Regions from separate parts of the Homo sapiens genome. Here region 1 is linked to region 2. The links come from fine-mapping of genetic effects on gene expression. A gene starts in region 2. The other region holds a variant in brackets. All regions are shown on one strand. Distances are between the middles of the regions.

The links. PIP is the estimated chance that this variant, and not a neighbour inherited with it, causes the effect. A credible set is the group of variants that fine-mapping cannot tell apart.
Region 1: its variant is the best candidate, but not a certain one, in a credible set for the expression of ANKRD22 in whole blood (INTERVAL, PIP 0.85).

The regions. Positions count from the first base shown.
Region 1 is chr10:88,822,257-88,825,178 of GRCh38, reverse strand. ANKRD22 (ankyrin repeat domain 22) reads left to right here. Exons shown (of 6, transcript NM_144590.3): 5 at 1,801-1,899; 6 at 2,161-2,922. The coding sequence ends at 2,238. Among named protein-coding and RNA genes, the nearest start is that of LIPM, 21 kb to the right of the region's middle. The variant A/C (reference allele first, on the strand shown) is at 1,844.
Region 2 is chr10:88,850,598-88,853,519 of GRCh38, reverse strand. ANKRD22 (ankyrin repeat domain 22) reads left to right here and starts at 1,676. Exons shown (of 6, transcript NM_144590.3): 1 at 1,676-1,933. The coding sequence starts at 1,913.

The DNA.
Region 1 (2,922 bases), 28 kb after region 2:
TATTTTACGTGTGTGCACATCTGTGTGTATTACCATTGTTTTATGATAGAGACCATGGCCCCATTCCTGTTTCTATCAATTATTTACATCATTTCGGTTTTGCCTATGCTGGTATCATGTTTAAATGCAGGCAGTTGTGTGTGTGTGTGTGTGTGTGTGTGTGTGTGAGAGAGAGAGAGAGAGAGAGAGAGAGCAAAAGAAAATAACTTTATGAAATTTATATTCCCTTTTATTTCAAATAGAACTTTTGGATAAATTTGTATTGACAGTTACTGTGCATTACCATTTCTTTAGATAGCTTTGAAATATATTAAGTAAGAGATTATTAAAGATGAAGTTAAAAGTTTGTTGAAGGTTTTTCTTGGTCTTTTCATTTAAATTCAATAGATTTAATATTCCTGCCTGTGACCAAAATTTCTCTAGGATATTTTCTCAGCAATTTATGTGTATTTCTCTCTCTAGATAGAGATATTGCATTCCTTCAGCTAGGCACAGTGACACTAGCCTGTAGTCCCAGCTACTTGGAAGGCTGAGATGGGAGGATCCCTTGAACTCAGGAGTTTGAGACACATGCAGGTACACACACAGACACCACTTCTAATACCAAAATTTTTTCAAAAACTATCTGAGTATTAAAATCTACTTTCTAGGTAAGACAGTGTTTTGTATTTTTGGATAATTAGACTCTATTTCACATGACAAAATTCAGAGCCAGAACTTCCATTTGTCATGCCACCACTTAATAAAAATAAATAATTGCAACATGATCTCCTATAATTTTAGAGGTGTTTCTAGGGAATGGGATCCAGAGCTAAACCTGTCTTGATAGCCAAAGGTACTATTTCTTCACTCACCAGCACCATGGTTGCTTGGCTACTTTTCCAAAGGCCAAATTTTGGACACTAATGCCCTAGCTATAATTTTTTTGACCTGTAGTGTTTTAAATTAGTACCAACAGAGTAGATGCACTAGCTTATAACACATAATATAAGCTATAACAAATCACGTTTGGGAAATGTCTCTGTAGAACTGCACTGATCTTGCAGGTGTCCTGCAGCAAGAGCACCCGACTTCTTCAGTAGGAATCATCACCAAAACCATAGAGGATAATGTTTATGTAAAGGGCCATGTGGAGACTCTTTAAGGGAAAGATGGTGACATGATCAAGGTGATGATCACCGAGGCATATAGCATGCGACAAAGAAACTTTGGCACAATTCAGCATCAGCTTTTTTAAGTTGCATTCTTTAGAACAGAAAATGGAAAACAAAAAGGCAGAGATTGATGGCTTATATGACACTAACATACATATACATTGAGACAGAGAAGAAATTTTTTTTTTTTTTTTTTTGAGACGGAGTCTCGCTCTGTCGCCCAGGCTGGAGCGCAGTGGCGCAATCTCGGCTCACTGCAAGCTCCGCCTCCCGGGTTCGAGCCATTCTCCTGCCTCAGCCTCCGGAGTAGCTGGGACTACAGGCACCCGCCACCGCGCCCGGCTAATTTTTTGTATCTTTTAGTAGAGACAGGGTTTCACCGTGTTAGCCAGGACGGTCTCGATCCTCTGACCTCGTGATCCGCCCGCCTCGGCCTCCCAAAGTGCTGGGATTACAGGCGTGAGCCACCGCGCCCGGCGAAAAATTTTTTAAGTACTAGAAATAGTTGTCTATCAATGGTTTGCAGACTATTTTTCTGCTTAGTTGTATACTACAAAGTGTGAAAAGGATTTGCCAATGAAGCCACATGCTATGGTCTGTGGAGGGCCCGACTTATGAGCTGAAGTTTTGGCCCTTTGTGTTTCAGTATGGCTGTACCGCATTACATTATGCCTGTGAAATGAAAAACC[A/C]GTCTCTTATCCCTCTGCTCTTGGAAGCCCGTGCAGACCCCACAATAAAGAATAAGGTAAGGGAGGGTGGACCGTGGTCTGAGGTTCCTCTAGCAGCAGCATCTTCTAATCTAGGCCTTATGTTGAAGTAAATTATTTGCCTCTGACGTAAACAACAGTAAAATTAATCATCCTCATTAAGGAATGAAGTTATCCTATTACTATTAGGACTGATTGCCTTTTAAAGCCCTTGCCAACACAGAGAGTCAATTGGTCTAAGCTACGTACGAGATCTTGGGCACTCTATTGGAAATAACTGTATATTTTTCCCCCCTCAGCATGGTGAGAGCTCACTGGATATTGCACGGAGATTAAAATTTTCCCAGATTGAATTAATGCTAAGGAAAGCATTGTAATCCTTGTGACCACACCGATGGAGATACAGAAAAAGTTAACGACTGGATTCTATCTTCATTTTAGACTTTTGGTCTGTGGGCCATTTAACCTGGATGCCACCATTTTATGGGGATAATGATGCTTACCATGGTTAATGTTTTGGAAGAGCTTTTTATTTATAGCATTGTTTACTCAGTCAAGTTCACCATGGCCGTAATCCTTCTAAGGGAAACACTAAAGTTGTTGTAGTCTCCACTTCAGTCAGAAACTGATGTTTCAGCTAGGCACAGTGGTACATGCCTGTAATCCCAGCTACTTGGGAGGCTGAGGTGGGAGGATCACTTGAACTCAGGAGTTTGAGAGCAGCCAGGGCAACACAGCGAGACCCTGTCTCAAAAAAAAAAAAAAAAAAAAAAGCCCTGGTGTTCCAAACTCAGTCTTTCCTGAAGAAGAGGATCTGAGTTATCTTCTGAAACAGCGTTCTCCCTTCCCAGTTGTATCACTCTTATAAAAAGACTGTCCAGTCTATGTCATGCCCTAGGAGACAAACTGTTCCTCCCAGCCCCCTTTGAGTATTGAGCAGAAGAATCAAATTATTAAATACGTATGTTTGTACAGAATGGTATTTGTGTATGTGTGTGGGCTTAGAGATTCACAAGTAAATATTCCTTTGGTGAAGGAATTTCAATAAAAACATCTATCAA
Region 2 (2,922 bases):
AACCTTAGGAGAGAAGCAATGACAGTGAAGAGTTCTGTCCACACAAATTAGTTGAAAGAGGTTACAAAAGAGGCTACCAGAGGTTACAAAATATTGCATAACAGAGTGAAGTACCCAATGGATATACCATTAATGTTTTTCTAAGTCAATGGGAAGACACTTAAATGTCTTAAGAGTCTACAGAAATACAAAATCAAACCAAGCCAAAGAGGAAGTCAGCTGCAATTTTAGTGGGTATTGCAGACTTCCCTCTCCTCCAACGGAAGAATTAGCTAATTCTTAAACTCCAGAGAGGCTGGCCTCGATGTCAACTGCATAGTGAAACATAAAATCTTTGAAATAATTATAAAAATAGCTCAGTATATCCACCAGTGGAGTAAGAAGAATTTCCCTGAATATTTATAAGCACAGGCCTAGTATCCTGGTCACTAGTTTCTGGCCACTAAGGAGCCTCAACTGATTGGGAAAATCACATCAATTGGTTTGAGATGGTTGAACTATTTCTTCCATGATATTATTGAGCAAATAGGCTTGCTGCCCCCTGCTCACAGAAGCCAATATCTGGACACTGGGTTTTGAGGAAAGAAAAACTTTATTGCAAGACAGGTCAGCAAGGAGACAGGAGGTGGGCTCAAATCTGCCTCCCCAGTTTGGAATCTGAGAAAATGTATGGCTTAGAGGGTGAGGGAAAGGATTTAGGAATGTTGGTTTGGCAGGGACTGATTGAAGGGCTTCAAATTTGACCACTAAAGGTAAGGTATGTTGAGGCAGATTTCAGCCCTGGATCTTTTGGGCCAATGAGCCCCTAGCTTCTGAAAGAGGTCCTGCATTTAGGTTCCCGTCATGTCCTTGTCTTCTTGGTTCCCAGGGGAGGGATCATTTGTTCTAGGTTCTGTTAGAGGCAAAAACATTTTTATTGTGCATGCCTGGGCTAAATGACTTACAGTTTTTGGCTCTGTTATATCTACAGAGTAAATTGACATTTGTTATCAACAAAGTACGGCCCATTTGGGCTGGTCCCATGGTTATAATGGGTGTGTGGACGGTCGAGTGTTTCAATTCTGGGAAAGTTTGATGTGATTGTATTCAGTTCAAGGAAAATGTGTGAATGATATCATATATAGCATATAAAATGTTTACAATATTTAAGAGATTGGGCATACTAGCATGTTTGATAAATAAATTGATGATGCAATTTAAAATGCATAACAGAGTATTTGATTTTAGACTTATGATTTTTAAATTGAATATTATAAAGTAATTTGGCTAAATGTGTGAATAGTATTGGAATATTTAAAACAACTTAAGATTTATTATGTTAGTAAATTTATTAGTTTACAAAACTGCATAAATAGCTGGAAAAGCGTTACTTGTTAGGCTGAGAATTTTGAAGATTATTTTTCAAGTTCTTTGCCAGACACGTGTGGCTCTCACAAGTAAGTTTGTTGGTCTCTAGCCTTTCTCAATGGCCACTGAAAACCAGATTTTGATTACGAAATGTCTGAAATACAGTATCTTGGTTTGAACCGTGAGTCCTTCCTGCCAATGTAAGAACTTTTCTTCCTCCCTTAACTTTGCTTCCTTCTTTCCTGCATGTTACCACTGGCAGAGCAAATATGACTCAGAAACCGGCTCCTCAGGGTTGTAACATTAGATGATACAGGCTTGGGTCGTTACACATGACACCAGTGCCTTTGTTTCATTGGGCTGGGCTCTCTGGAAGGTGTGCTGCTGCCTGAGCTGCTGGAAAAGCACTGACAGGTGTTTGCTAGAAAAGCACTCCTGGAGCTTGCCACCAGCTTGGACTTCTAGGGACTTTCCTCTCAGCCAGGAAGGATTTTGATATTCATCAGAAATACCTCCAGAAGATTCAAGGAGCTGTAGAGGTGAAGTAAGCCTGTGAAGGACCAGCATGGGAATCCTATACTCTGAGGTACATCACCTTTCTGAAAGCAGAGTTCCAAAGATGTTAAAAGTTACTCATGCTTTTCAGATGCAATTTTCTATCCCTGTTAATATATTTCTGTTTTGTCTGTTCAACTCCCTGGGGGAGCATTAAGTCAGAAAAAATAAAGTCCTATGTGTTATTCTTGTTGATATTCTTAATAGTTTAAGACAAAGTATTTTGTAATTCTAAAATATTAGCTAGATCTAAGTTGAGATGAATATAATACACATTTCATAGTATCTGGATGTTTGCAAGGATAATTTGGACAAAATCGAGTTTGAGTTGTGCTTTTCTCATGACAAACACTCAGAGAAAAAGAGAAAATTGTACTCAATTGGATTTTCTAAATATCCAAAAGATTGACTGCCTCTTTTATGGAACCACATGACCAGAGTAATGCCTTTCAGCTTGGTATTTGAAGGGAGATTCACCTTTAGTAAATATTAGTAAAGACTATCACTATGAAGAAGAGGAATAATAACATATTTTGATGATTTGATTATTTTCTTTTCACATCTGATAAATACTGAGGTACTTTTACTTGTATTGGAAGTAACTTATTAGAATCAAATGGATTTTTAATGATGTTTCAAGAAAGTACAAGCAAGGAATGTTTAGACAAGAGTACAAGAGGTGTAATGATGTCATTATACATAATTTACTCTCTCTCTCCTCTGACACAATTAACTGGTTAATCTGCATTTCATTGCAGATGCTCAGGGGAACCTTCTTGGATAGTTTTGATCTAGTATTAAAGACAGTTTATTTGCAGTTATTTCTAATGCCATGTGTGTATATATCTCTCCGTGTGTGCAAATGCAGTGTTTGATTGGTTTATAACTCTAGGTATGTCTTGCTCAGTGATTTTAGCCTCATGAAGGGATCATATACATGAAAATGACAAAACATATAGTGCTTTTAAATGCTACTCTGGTAACTCTCAAACTTTAGACTGCCCAAGTGTCAGGGAGAGA